Linked DNA regions of Homo sapiens. The protein of the gene in region 2 interacts with the protein of the main gene of each other region in a pairwise test. Each region holds a gene or a part of one and is shown on either strand. Other genes may lie near its edges.

Region 1 (7,510 bases), on a different chromosome or scaffold from region 2:
GGGCAATATGATGAAACCCTGTCTCTACCAAAAATACAAAAATTAGCCGGGCGTGGTACCACACGCCTGCGGTACCAGCTACTTGGGAGGCTGAGGTGGGAGGATTGTTTGAACCTGGGAGGCGGAGGTTGCAATGAGCTGAGATTACACCACGGCATTCCACTCTGGGTGACAGAATGAGACTCCGTCTCAAATAAAGAAGAAGGGTGTTGTGGGTGACAGAGTGAGACTCTGTCTCAAAAAAAGAAAGAGTGTTTTCTCCCTCCACCTGTCCCACCACCCAGCCTAGAAGGAAGACTGTCTACCAGCCTGTGGATCATCTCTATCCTCCAGGAGGTGTGGAGGGGCTGGCCCAGGAGGACATTACATATGTCAGGACCCACAGTCAGGTAGGGCCAGGTGTTCATTGACCTACCAGCCACATGCAAACAAGAGGTCGTATGTGTCTGCCCTTTTCCCCTTCTCCTCTATACCATTTTAATTCTAAGCACTGTATAGACATCACCCATTTAATCCCTTAAGAATTCACCCAGATAGCTATTATTATTATTATCCCCAATTTACCAATGAGGAAATTGAGATTTAGGTAGTTAAAGTAATCTACCAAATCACACAGCTAGTGATGGGAAAAGCCCAGTTTCTAATCTAGTCTGCTCAATTTCAGAGTCCTGTGTCTAAGCATGCACAGCTCACCTGGGTCGTGAGCACAAGATGATAACTAAGAATGCAAAGCCTCTCTCCAGTTGCAGGGTCTTTTTTTTTTTTTTTTTTTTTTTTGAGACAGAATTTCACTCTGTCACCCAGGCTGCGCAATCTTGGCTCACTGCAACCTCTGCCTGCCAAGTTCAAGCGATTCTCCTGCCTCAGCCTCCTGAGTACCTGGGACTGCAGGTGCGTGCCACCACACCCGGCTAATTTTTTATTTTTAGTAGAGATGGGGCTTCACCATGTTGGCCAGGCTGGTCTCGAACTCCTGACCTCAAGTGATCCACCTGCCTCGGCCTCCCAAAGTGCTGGGATTATAGGCATGAGCCACTGTGCCTGGCACAGGGTCTTCTTTCAGGGTGGAGTAACTTTGTACCACTGTTAGTCAGTCTCCCTGGGTTGGGAAGGACAGGAAAGGACTGTACCCACTGCTGAGACACAGGGAGTCTGTCCAACTATGACATCATCATTGTTACATGGTGAGGTGGGGACAGACCTTGGAATAGGACCTGTGTCCGTAATGCTGATCCTGAGCCCTTCTCCGGCCAGGCAAGTCCCCCTTGTCATGCAGCATCATTCACGAAGGAACAGCAGCTTCACAGGGAGACCACAGTCACTCCATTACACTCCATGCAGCCAAAATTTGAAAGACTGTTTGCTTATTTTGTCTTACAGAGAGAGAGAGGGTGGCCTTGCTGTGTCTTGCATAAATGCACACATCAGTATGTTTCTGCAGTGTTTTAAGTTGTCTCTCTATGCTCTACATATCCTTTGACACCCATGGACTTATCGTAGACGCTACCAGAAGTAAGGGCATAGTGGTATACTTTAGAACTGTGAAACAGGCCAGCTGGAAGGACCATCTGGTCTACCCGCCCTGGTTGGGAGATAAAGAAATTGGAGAGGTAATGCAACCTGCCCAGTGACGCCCAGTATGTCAGTGGCAGAGCTAAGACTAGAGCCCCCCATTAGTTCCAGTGCCCAGAACCAGGTATCCCTTTCAGAGAGGATCTAGGAAGTTGCTGATGGAAATGACAACGATAACAATGAGAATCCCAGCAGGGAGGGAAGAACGGAGCGGTCTTTTGCTTCTGGTGCTTGTATTCTCATGGAGTGGATGCTGACTTGATCCAGAGGGGTGTGAAGGAAATTGGGCTCTCCCTTCAGGCACTCCTTCAGGAGGCAGGAGACGGAGGAGCAGCGAAGGAAGCTGTGGGAGCAGGGCAGCGGCAGGGGGTACAGAGGAAAGAAGAGGAGTCACAACAAAGGACAGAGGTATCTTGGGTGGGACAGGGGAGAAGGGCTGAGGAAGGGAGAGGGCAGCTTAGGGTCTGGAGAAAGTGGCAAAGGCCTGCCTTGAGGTTGCTCCCGAAGCAGAAGATCAGGCTGGGGCTGGAACCCAGGGGCCCCACACACCCGCCTGTCCCCCTGGCCTGCCTACTTCTCTTGAGAGCAACCAGAAACCAATACCGTATTTGTCTCCTTCTCCAAGGTAAAGGAGGAGCAAGTCAGAGCTCCAAGACTCAGGTTTTGCACACCCACAAATTCCATTTCCAAAGACCTGATGGAGACTTTGAGTCCCTTCCCTGGATTGCAGCCTCCCAGCAGAGCTCAAACAGAACACACACTCACCTCCATGAAGGGCACGGCACGACAAGAAACGTCACCCAGTAGCCTCTGCTTGGTGATCTCGTTGAAGATGACAATAGGGAGGCAGAAAAAGAGGACCAGAAAATCCCAGAGGGCCAGGCTGGCAAGGATGGAGTTCCAGGCACTCTTCAGGTAGTAGCTGTGCCACACGATGCACATGACCGACAGGTTGCCCACAATGCCCACCGCAAACACCACCAGCGCCAGAAGCATGATGGCATAGGCACTGTAGGAGCTCTCGGTCACCGGATACAGGGGGTTCTGGATCTGTAGCCTCTGCCCTGGTGCTCCTGTCAGATTGCCCCTCAGTTCCTGCCCACTGTCTGGGGTGCCCCCATCCTTGCCGGGGTTAGGGCTGGTGGCCACCAAGGGCTTGGTTGGCTGCAGGCCAGCAGGGTGAATGGGCCGGGGGTACTCCGCCCACTCCTCAGGCACATACTGCTGCACGCCCTTGGCCTCCTCATCCTCGGTGCCCCTCTTGGATCGGCTCTGCTGCTCCTGGGTCTCGGCTCTGTGCCTGCCCAGGTGCAGGGGGGCACCCCCAGAGACCCTGCTTAGCCCCACAGCCAAAATCACAGCAAGAGAGACAGCCAGGGGCCACAGCCACCGCATGGCTGGATGAGCAGGAGACAGCCAGCCCAGGAAGAGCAGGTGAGTGCAGGGGGCCCAAGAGCTGGGCTCCAGAGAGGCAGCTGGCCGGCTGGATCCGCCTCCAGTCAGGCGTCTGGCATCACTCGCCTGCCCTCCCTCCCAGCCTCCGGCCACAGGCCGGGCAGGGCCCTCTGCTGGACACATAGCACTCTTTGCTGCCCTCACACATCTCGTCCTCCACGACGCCGCTTCTCAGGCCCTACAGCATGTCAGGCTGTGGGGCCCTAAGAGGGCATCTGCTTCAGGCCCCTGAAACTAGGGAGGAAATGTGGCCTGCCTAGGGTGACACAGGGAGGTGGGGCAGAATGGGAACTGGGGCGCAGGTCTCCTGATTCTAAGGCAGCTCCTCCATTCAAAACTCAGCAATAACCATCACTGTCACTTACTGAACACTTACTAGGTGCTAGCACTCAGCTGGTTTCTCAATTAACCCTTGATTAATCTCAGATCACAAATCTGAGGTTTGTAGAGGTCAGTCACTTGCCACATAGTTGATACAAGGCAGAGCAAGGCCCACAACCCAGATCTGACTCCAGAGATTTCTAATTTTTTTTTTTTTTTCGGTTGCCCAGGCTGGAGTGCAATGGCGCGGTCTTGGCTCACTGCAGCCTCCGCCTCCTGGGTTCAAGTGATTCTCCTGCCTCAGCCCCCTGAGTAACTGGGATTACAGTTACTGTAGTGCCCGCCACCATACCCGGCTAATTTTTGTATTTTTAGTAGAGACAGGGTTTCACCGTGTTGACCAGGCTGGTCTCAAACTCCTAACCTCAGGTGATCCGCCTGCCTCAGCCTCCCAAAGTGCTGGGAGCCACCGCACCCGGCCTAAAACACCATATTCTGAGCCAGACACAAGATGTGTGGACATTTGCAATAACACGTCTTTACTGACTACGTGTTGTGTTCCAGACACTCAGAATACAAAAATGTAAAGGATCTCTGCCACCAATGAGCTTTCAGTCCAGAGAAGGAAGTAAATGTGTAAGTTCAGCATGATAGATGCTATGAAAGGCAAAGGTCATGATGCTGAGGGAACCCAAGAAAATCTGGGGGGGATCTGGAAGGCCTCCCAAGCGAGGTGACATTTGAATGGATCCCGAGAAATGGCTGTGAGCTTGCCTGACAGACTACGGGAAGGGAGGGTGCTCTAGGCAGAAGACACAGCACACACAAAGGCTGGGTGATGTGGAAGTGGGTGATGTTCCCGCAAGAGAGCAAGTCTGTCGAGGGGACTAGAGTGCAAGGGAGGTGGGGAGAGAGCATGGGCACTTGGGACAAAGAGCTTGGAAATATCAGCAGAGGAGGAACTGGACTGTAAAGGACTTTGTATGCCAAGCCAAGGAGTTTAGATTTTATCCCATAAGCAATGGAGAATATCACAGGTTGTTAAGTAGGCAAACAATGACTCAACTAAGTTATTTTAGAGGGGTCCCTGATGGGCAGCTGGGGTCCTAGCAATCTGGAACAGGAGGATGCAGAGACCGGGGGTTCTGTTGGGAGGCAGTGGGTGATGGAGAGAAGCCCAGAGTCAAGGAAAACCAGCAGCTTTGAGCGGCTTTGGCTGTGCATGGGAGGGAGAGGTCGAGGCAGAGCCCAAGCATGGGGTGGGTAGTGAATCCACTCAGCCACATTAGGGAGGCACAGTTCTGAGGACGGACCACACGATGCCTAGGAGAATCCACTGGAGAATTAACTCGAAGACCTGCCCCAGAGTGAGTCAGATCATTCCCTCCTCCCAACTCCCACGGCATTATGCTGCTGTCATTGAAACCTACCACCTTCACCAGCCCAGACAACATGGTGAAACCCCATCTCTACTAAAAATACAAAAATTGGACAGATGTGGCAGTGCACACCTGTAATCCCAGCTACTCGGGAGGCTAGGGCATCAGAATCACTTGAACCCAGGAGGCAGAGGTTGCAGTGATCCGAGATCATGCCACTGCACTCCAGCCTGGGCAACAGAGCAAGACTCTGTCTCAAAAAAAAAAAAAAAAAAAAAAAGGGCCAGACGCAGTGGCTCATGTGTGTAATCCCAGCACTTTGGGAGGCTGAGGTGGGCAGATCACAAGGTCAGGAGTTCAAGACCAGCCTGACCAACATGGTGAAACCCCCGTCTCTACTAAAAATACAAAAAAAAAAAAATTAGCCACGCGTGGTGGCAGGCACCTGTAATCCCAGCTATTTAGAAGGCTGAGGCAGGAGAATCACTTGAACCCGGAAGGCGGAGGTTGCAGTGAGCTGAGATTGCGGCCAATGTACTCCAGCCTGGGCGACAGAGCAAGATTCCATCAAAAAAGAAAGAGAAAAGGAAAGGAAGTTGGGGGAGGGGAGGGGAGGGGAGAGGAGAGGAGATGAGAGGTGTGCTATTTGGGGATTTGGGTAACTAGAATCATCCATCATCTGCAGCATCACCACTCACCAAGTGCCACACTCTGTGCTAAATGCTTGCTATAATTGTCACTTAATCTTTATATTATTACCCTAGACTCTGAAAGGTAAGGCAACTTTCCTAAGAACACACAGCTAGTGAATGACAGCTGGGATCCAAATGTAGGTTTGTCCAACTCCAAAGCTAAAACTCTTTTTTTTTTGAGACAGGGTCTGGCTCTGTTGCCCTGGCTGGAGTGCAGTGGCATGATCTTGGCTCACGGCAACCTCAGCCTCCCAGGCTCAAACAATCTTCCCACCTCAGCCTCCAGAGTAGCTGGGACCACAGATGTGCACCACCACACCTGACTAATTTTTGTATTTTTAGTAGAGACAGGCTTTTTGCCATGTTGCCCAGGCTGATCTCAAACTCCTGAGCTCGAGTGATTTACCCGCCTCAGCCTCCCAAAGTTCTGGGAATACAGGTGTGAGCCACCTCACCCAGCCCAAAGCTGAAACTCTTAACCACTCCTTTGTGTGACTTCACAGAATTCTAACATAGGAAGAGATGCTAGAGATAATCTACACCAACCTTCTTATTTTTCAGGAGTGGAAACGGAAGTCCAGAGAAGCCAAGTGACCAGGCCAGGCACTTGGCAGTCCTGTCTCTGCTGTGGGATCCTCAGTGCTCCACAGGCACGTGCCAATACAGTATGGACCCAAGCCCAGGGCTGGTACGTGTGAGCAGAATAAATGTTAGTTCTCTGCTCTTTAAAAAAAAAAAAATTCAGAGACAGAGTCCTGCTCTATTGCCCAGGCTAGAGCACAGTGACATGATCATACTCACTGCAGACTTGAACTCCTGGGATCAAGCAATCCTTCCACCTCAGCCTCCAGAGTAGCTAGGACTACAGGTGCACACACCCTGCCTGACCTTCTGCTTCTTATTTTATTTTATTTTATTTTATTTTATTTTATTTTATTTTATTTCAGAGACAGGGTCTCGCTCTGTCACCCAGATTGGAGTGCAGTGGCAGGATCTAGGCTCACTGCAGCCTCAACTCCTCCTGGGCTCAACTGATCCTCCCACCTCAGCCTCCCAAGTAGCTGGGCCCACAGGCACATGCCACCATGCCCAGCCTTTTGTGTTTTTTTTGGTAGACATAGGGTCTGCCTGTATCACCTAGGCTGGTCTAGACCTCCTGAGCTCAAGCAATCCACCCACCTCAGCCTCCCAAAATGGTGGGATTACAGGCGTGAGCTACCGTGCCCAGCCTCTTTATGCTCATGGATATGCCTCCATCAAACCTCACATTTGGCCTCACACAGAGTAGGTGCTCAATAAACACTGAATGCCTGAAAGGGCACCCCCTTGTGCCGGTCTCTGTGAGAACGGTTGGAACATCAGAGGCCACTAGGTGGAACCAAATGTCCAGTGATGGTAGTTAAGGGCCTGGCCTCAGCCCTTCACCCCATCGGATCTTAACCCATCCCACTCTGCCCAGGTCCTGCCCACAGACCTTCTGTGGCTGTCTGAGAAGGCCATCTGAAAAGAGATGATAGGGGACAGGGTGGGTTCCCAGGGGCTGAGACTAAAGGGATGGGGGATGTGCCTACTCTTCCCCTCCACCCCCCTGGAGGGTGCCCAGCATGGGTCCCCCAAAAGTACTTTTCTCCTACCTGTAGTTCTACTTTAGGAAGATTCCTCTCTCTGGACAAGCTGGAGCCATCTCCCCTATTCAGAAGCATGCCAGGCAGAGATGGAAGGCTTTCCTAGCCCTTGGGAGTGTCTCTCCATGATCCCAGGAATTCCCCATTCCTCTCCCTGGGAGTTTCCCCAGTGCTGGCTACAGAAAAGGTACTTAGCTGGGGCCGGGCGCGGTGGCTCACGCCTGTAATCCCAGCACTTTGGGAGGTGGAGGTGGGCGGATCACGAGGTCAGGAGTTCAAGACCAGCCTGACCAACATGGTGAAACCCCGTCTCTACTAAAAATACAAAAATTAGCTGGGTGTGGTGGTACACGCCTGTAATCCCAGCTACTCAGGAGGCTGAGGCAGAAGAATCGCTTGAGCCTGGGAGGCAGAGGTTGCAGAGAGCCGAGATTGTGCCACTGCACTCCAGCCTGGGCTACAGAGC
Region 2 (7,227 bases):
AAGTATTTTTGCACGCACCCTAAGCCGTATTGACTTCATCCACTTAAAAAAATACTTCAAAAAGATTTAAAGAACATCTTCTACCTGCAGTTATTACTGGAGTAGAAATCTGAAAGACCCGTTGTCTACCCATACAGAGCTTATAGTCTGTAGGGCGGATGGGAAAGAAGGTAACCAACTGCTCCCCAGGCTGTGGTAAATGCCCAATGGGGACACAGGATGCTGACAGACAGTGCCAGGATGGCCTCAGGACAGCAGGAAATAGCTCCTAGAAGCTGACTGCTAACCAACCCTCCCAACTTGCCTGGAAGGTAGGACTCTGGGTACCAAAACCAGGGCCAGCATCCACAGACACTAGGGCGTGAGAGGTCAGGACTGCATGGAGGCAGCCCTGGCTGTGCGCAAGCAGCTGAGAATCTGGAGACCTCCAGAAGACTCCAGAGCTACAGTTCTGTGTTCCTGTTGCATGCCCACCTCCAGGAGTAAAAATGCTCCTTTTAAAAGTCAACCAGCCCAGGGACAGGGCACAATGGTGCTCACCTGCAGTTCCAGTTACTTGGGAGCCTGAGGCTTGAGGGTTCTTTGAGCCCAGAAATTCGAAGTTACAGTGAGCTAAGACTGCACCACTGCTCCCCATCCTGGGGAACAGAGTGAAACCCGGTCTTCTCCCCTCAAAAAAAATCAACCAACTCAGATGATCCTTGAGGACATTATACTGAATGAAATAGGGCAGGTGCAAAAAAACAAACACTGCATGATACCACTCACATGAGGTACTCAGAGTAATCAAATTCATAGAGACAGGAGAATGCGGGTTCCCAGAGCCTAGGGAGAGGAGGACTGGGGTATTAATGTTTAATGAGTCCAGAGATTCCGCTTTACAAAATAAAAATAATTCTGGAGGTGGATGGTAGTGACAGCTGCACAACAACGTGAATGTATTTGTTGCCATGAATTGTACACTGAAAAAGCGGTAGGAAAGGCTGGGAGCCGTGGCTCATGCCTGTGATCCCAGCTACTCTGGAGGCTGAGATGGGAGGACCACTTGGGTCCAGGAGGCTGAGGCTGCAGTGAGCTACGGTCATACCATTGCACTCCAGCCTGGGTGACAGAGTGGGACTCTGTCTCCAAAAAAAGTTAGGATGGTAAATTTCATGTTACATGTATTATACCATAATTTAAAAATGGTGAGAAAAAAGCAACCAGCGCAGGAAGATACTGAATAGGATGTTTAGTCATTTCTTTATTACCTAATAAAGATCCTTCATAACCATTTCTTCATTAAGGCAAACTCTGTGTTTAAGAACATAGGCCTGGGCCGGGCGGGGTGGCTTATGCCTGTAATCCCAGCACTTTGGGAGGCCGAGGCGGGTGGATCACTTGAGGTCAGGACTTTGAGGCCAGAGTTCGAGACCAGCCTGGCCAATATGGTGAAACCCTGTCTCTACTAAAAATACAAAAAAATTAGACAGGCGTGGTGGCGCTTGCCTGTAATCCCAGCTACTTGGGAGGCTGAAGCAGGAGAATAGCTTGAACCCAGGAGCGGGGGTTGCAGTGAGCCGAGATCGCACCAATGCACTCCAGCCTGGGCGACAGAGGGAGACTCCTTCTCAAAAAAAAGAGAAAAAAAGAAAAAAAAACCAGGCCCTAATGTGCACATAAGGGACAGGGTGGTCAGTTCTAACTGCTATTTGCTCCACCTGAGGCCAGTGTGGACCAGGACAAATCCTAACAGGATGGACTGGGCCGTTCTAAGCAACAGGACCTTCTAACCTCCTTTCTGAACACTGTGAGGCCAACTGCAAAGGTACCCCCCCACCCCCAATTCCGATGTCCTTTCCTCCCATACCATGTTAGACCGTTGCAACACGTTGCCTCGTTTTCAAAAAACAATAACAAAACTTCTAGGACACAAGCTCTGAAGGAAATTGTCAAGAAAGTGCGCTGGCTGACTTGTGAAATAATCTAATGTTACTAATTCTTATAATACATTGTAATGATTTAAGACTTACAGCAAACTACTGTGAACTTTCAATAACCCTATAAATAACACGTGCCATTCCCGTCTTTAAAACTTAAATAACACCATGCAACATAAAACAGAAACATCTCCAAAGTGGTTTTTAAAGTCTGTTCGCGGTTCTGGTGCCTCCCGCGTGTAATCCGCAGAAATCTCACTGAAATAGGCTGAACTCACAAGGCCTTAGAGGGGTTTGGGCCCTGCCGCGGGGGCCCACGTGGGAAGCGGCCGAGAGCCCCGGGCCAGGCTCTAAGGGAGCGCAGGAGGATGCCGTCCCCAGCCGGCCGTCCCGTAGACTCTCCGCGCGTACCCGCGTCCTGGGCTCGGGGGCCCAGTCCCGGAAAGCCCTCTCGGGGGCTGTCAGCTACGGAGGCGCAGGTCGCGTCTGCCCGGTCGCTCCTGCTCGCAGACATCCAGGCCGACGGCCCGCGCGGTCCGGAGAGTCAGCAGTCGCGGCCGAGCAGGACAATCGGCCCAGGACCTGCGCTTCCAGAGCGTGCGGCTTCTGAAGCCTAGGCGCCGGCCGGATCGATCGCGCGCAGGGCGGACCCAGGCGGCCGGGGTGGGGGCGGCTGCGCTGCCCGAGGCGCCCGGCCCAGAGACGGCGGCCGGGCCAAGGTCACACAGCGCCCACGCCCGCTCCCCCGCGCCCCGGCCGCCGAGGCCCGGCGCCCCCGCCCCCCGCGTTCGGGCCGGCCGCGGGGCCTCAGTTTCCCCGCAGGGCCGGGTCGGGGCGGGGGCGTGGCGGCCCGGGGCCCGCGTACCTGTGGAAGGAGACGGCGCGCTTCTCGCCCTTTCCCTGCCGGTTGGAGCAGTTCACGGCCGCACAGCAGATCACCATCGCGGGCCTTGGCCCAGCCGCGCAGCCAGGCCCCGGCCCTAGCCGCCCGCCCGCCCGCGGACCGCCCCGAGGGAGGGAGCGCGGCGGCGACACGGCTCGGGACGTGGGCCGGCCCGCGGCGTCCGCGCCGTACGGCAAGATGGAGGCGCAGGCGCCCGCAGCGGGCCCGCCCCCGCCCCAGCCCCCGCCCGCGTCCTCGCCAGCCGCGGGTTCGGGCGTCTTCGGACCAGCGGGGCGCCGCAGGCCCCTCGCAGCGTCCGTCGGCAGGCGGGCAGACGGGCGGGGGAGTCGCCCCGGCGGGGCAAGTCCGTACCGCGACATGGGCGCGCCGAGCACGTCCGTACCGCAAGATGGCTGCTCGGACGGGGACAGAGCTCGCCTCTGCCGCCTCGACAACTGCTCCTGGGTCCTCTAAGAGGAGGAAGCGCCACCCATGGCACACAGTGTCCCGTCGGACAGCAGAACCAGCCGTCGTCCCACGACACGACCCCATGCCGCCCGCAGGGCGCCCCGGGGCTCGCGTCGGCCCGGCCGTACGCCAAAATGGCGGCTCCCGCGTATTTCCGCTCGCGCGCCGTATCGTCTTCGCCGCCTGCGCCGGCACACCTATTGGCCCCCGCGGCGTCCCGTCGCCGCGTCGCGTTGCTGGCCCGTCGGAGCGACGCCGCTCGGGTCAGTCGGCGGCCGGACTGGGAAGATGGACGCAGGTGAGGAGTTGCCGGGGGTCGGTCTTTCCGCAGGAGGTGCTCGCCTTATCATTGGCCTCCCCTGCTCGGGTCGGGCTGCCGCGACTCGCCTCGGGGCACGCCGGTGCGGGCCAGGCTGGGCCGGGGCGGCGGGCGCTGCGGGAGCGCGGGGCGGTGTTGGTGGGTGGTGGGCGGTGGGAGCGGGAGGGGGACGGCGGCGCACTGCGCCGCGGAACCCGCCGTCGGTTGCGCTGGAGCTTCTGCTTTTCCGGTCCCGTCCGGAGCGCTCCGGAGGTTGTGGCTGCACAGGCCCTTGCGCCAGGTCGGCCGTGGAGGGCGGCGGAGCCTGCCGGGCGGGGAGAGGCGCGGCGGCGAACGGGGCGGCCGCGGTCCGGGCCGGGGACGCGAGCGGCGGGCGAAAGCGTAGCCTTTCCGCAGCTGAGCGTGAAGGGATGGAAGCTCTTTAACTTTTATGAAGTTATTGGTAGGTTGGAGGAGAGAAACGTGACGTGTTCATCACAGTATACGTATCTTTTTTGTTTTTGTCTTCAATTTAGTAACCAGTAGATTCTCCAAGCTGCTTTTCCGTGACGAGAAAGAGAAACAGTGAATTTGTATCATCGGGTCTTAGTTTCTTGGGGTCCTAAGAGAGAGAGAAAGAGAAGGAGTGTGTGTGTGTGTGTATAGGGAGTGTTGGTTTTTTTCCTATCCTTTCATGCTTCCGCTCCATTTTTGCTAGCAAGATTATTTTAAGTCAGCGCCAAACCCATCGCTAGCCCAGTAGCCCTAGAAATATTTTTACACAGAAGTTTTAGCTCATTCATTCTTTGTGGGAACTGATTTGCCTTTTACCAAGTATCCCCCATCTGTAAAGAAAGATTTTCATCTGGTTTAATTCTGTCATTCTGAATGGGATTGTTTTTACTTTTTATTTTTCTGGTAGCTACAACATAAATTTATTAAGATCTGAGTTGGAAAACTGTAATGTGTATTGCCAATATCTATTAAAATGATTTGTAGCAGCTCACCACTTAAATGTGGTAGGTGGCTGGAGGAAACAGGAGCCCTGACTCCCTAAGGAGCATGTTGACCAGGTGTATATCTTGTGAAGTTTGTCTTTTAGAATAACCGTCATTCACGGTTGAACTATTTGCAGCTGTGTACTATTTGTTGTTTACTATTTTACAACTGTTGTATTATATCTTTTTAGGTGTTATTGTTTGTGATGCAGGATTTTTCTCAGCCACTCTGGCAGCCAGAGACCTCCGGCTGGCGAGGCCCCTGCCCAGGCCTTGCTTGGGTCCAGGCTCGCCGCAGGAGATACCCCATCTACTTGGTCCACCGGTGGGCACCTGGTTTGCACTATGGCACGGATACCATGGCCACCATGACTGTATGCTCAGCCCCTGGCGGGAGTGGGTGTGTGGGTGAGTGAGTGCCGGGTCCCGCCAGCTGTTTCAAGCGCAGGCACCAGAGTGGGCTCTGCAGAGCTTACAGCTAGACATGTGGCAAGCAACTCCCACGGCGGACTCCAGCGTCCAGACAAAGGGACAGTGGATTCTGGTGTCCAGACAAGGGGAAGGTAGTGGCGCCCAAGCAGGGGTGCTTACAACCCTGAAGCCCAAGAGGGGGTGTTGCAGAGTGTCAGCAGCCCTGTTACTCCCATTGCCCTGCTCCAGGCTATAGCTCTGGGGCTGGCTCCGTCCCCGCTGCTTCCCTTTGCTGCCTCCTGTCACGTGGGGTGTCACAGTGGGTGGCTGCCCTTTGCCGGCAGAGGGCCCAGGGCCACAGTGTTACAGCCTTCTTTGTACTTGCATTCATTGGGTCCCTAGTTCTTGTCCCACGTCCAAGAAGAATGAGACTACACTTAACACTGACAATCGAAGGGTGAGGAGGGTGGAGAATAGTTTTATTGAGTGATGAAACACCCCTCAGCAGAGAGGGGACTCAAGGGTGGTCTTCCACCCAAAGTCGGGTGGTCTCCCTTGGTGTGGCTGGGTCCAGGGCTTTTATAGGCTCAGAATGGGGAGTGTGTGCTGATTTGTCTGTGAGTATGCAAAAAAGGTTAAAACAAAGTCACTACTCAAAGGTGGGCACAACAGTGTAATAAACCAATTAGAGAAAAGTAGGTATATGTAAAATAGGTGAAGGGTGGGGATTAATTAGAGGAAAGCGCACCAAACAGGAAGAGAGGTTCGCAATCCAGTCTGTGGATTTATCCGAGACTCGTCGCTTGGCTTTCAGGCTTTAAACTGTGGCTTGAAGGTTGGGTTTCACTGGTGACCCACCCCTCTCTGCCTAGGATTTGTCTGCCTCCTGCCTCTATCATTTCGATACCTTGAGGCTGGAGTATCATATGAGAGACTTGGCTAAGGTCAAAAACACGGTTCAGTGTCGATCATATGACCTAAAATGTGAAAATCATCATGTTCAAGTTGGGAGAACAGTTATGTTGTTACATGGCGATACTTTATTTTATCTTTTATTTTCCCTTGACAACTGTGTTGACATGGTGATACTTTAATAGGACACTGGATGTTGCTGCATGTGGGATCAGAGTAGAAAAGGTGTTTGCATTTAAAGGTCTCTGTTTATGCTGATAAAAACGTATATGATGTTTGTAGGATATCATGGGGAATTTTCCTTCTGACTTGATGCTGTATTTCCTTTCAGAGATGATTAATGATCTGCCCTCCTTTGATCTCTAGAGTTCTTGAAGATTCTGCCTTCCTTGACCATGTGTAATACAGTTTCTGTTCTGATAGTCATTAATTCAATACACTGTTTGTTACTGACTGTCAGATATGTGTTAGGCATTGTTCTAGACACTAGGACTAGAGAAGTAACAACATAGATGAAAACCATTGCCCTGGGGTAGCTAACGTTCTAGACATGAGACCAGCATTAGCAGCGAAGTGCGTGGCTCCTGGGGGATGGTGATTTGGGCCAAGGATGAGGAGGATTGGAATTGTAGCCAGGATGGCCAGGAAGGGTCTCACTCTGAAGGTTTAAGTTTTGACGAAGACTTAAAGCAGTGTAGGAGGAAGGGCAGGTAGCAAGAGCCTGGTGTGGCTCAGGTGCAGCGGGTGGCGGTGGGAGAAGCAGGAGCTGAGGATAGAAAGGTGACTTAGGCTCAGTGTAGTGGGGCCTTGCCAGCTCATAGTGAGGACTCGGTGTTTATTCTGAACAGGATGGCAGCTCATAGTGAGGACTCAGTGTTTATTCTGAACAGGATGGCAGCCGTTTGGAAGGTTTCATTCTAGAGGAGGAGTCACATGATAGACTGTGTTCAACAGGCTTGCTCTGGCATCTCTTTTGAGAATGTACTGCAGAGGGGCAAGGGCAGAGGCAGCGAGACCAGCTAAGAGACTGTTGAACAAGCCAGCAAGGAGATGCCAGTGGATTAGCTCAGGGTGGGTAAGAGGTTGACTTCTGCATGTGTTTTGGAGGTTGAGACAATAGAATTTGTTTGTAGATTGGAAGTTGGGAGAGGGATGGGTAGAGAGGGAGGAGTTAAAGATGGCCCCATAGTGTATGGCCTGAGCTAAGCAACTCAGATGGAGGGGGGCGGGCGTGGTGGCTCACGCCTGTAATCCCAGCACTTTGAGAGGCCGAGGTGGGCGGATCACAAGGTCAGGAGATCGAGACCATCCTGGCTAACACGGTGAAACCCCGTCGCT

What was found. Proteins that work in one complex are often made in the same cells at the same time.
Region 1: the proteins of THAP4 (region 2) and GPR37L1 interact in binary tests that used the Homo sapiens proteins (3 or more experiments, as listed by UniProt).

What each region holds. Positions count from the first base shown.
Region 1 is NC_000001.11:202,118,421-202,125,930, reverse strand, and holds the start of GPR37L1 (G-protein coupled receptor 37-like 1 precursor), read right to left. Parts: upstream 3,015-7,510; 5' UTR 2,968-3,014; coding exon 2,338-2,967; exon of another isoform or gene 2,198-2,337; intron 1,981-2,197; exon of another isoform or gene 1,873-1,980; intron 390-1,872; exon of another isoform or gene 213-389; intron 1-212. UniProt on the Homo sapiens protein: G-protein coupled receptor. Has been shown to bind the neuroprotective and glioprotective factor prosaposin (PSAP), leading to endocytosis followed by an ERK phosphorylation cascade. However, other studies have shown that prosaposin does not increase activity.
Region 2 is NC_000002.12:241,634,157-241,641,383, forward strand, and holds the start of THAP4 (peroxynitrite isomerase THAP4), read right to left. Parts: upstream 3,003-7,227; 5' UTR 2,862-3,002; coding exon 2,785-2,861; intron 1-2,784. Other genes in the region: cysteine protease ATG4B, read left to right, coding at 3,559-3,568. UniProt on the Homo sapiens protein: Heme-binding protein able to scavenge peroxynitrite and to protect free L-tyrosine against peroxynitrite-mediated nitration, by acting as a peroxynitrite isomerase that converts peroxynitrite to nitrate.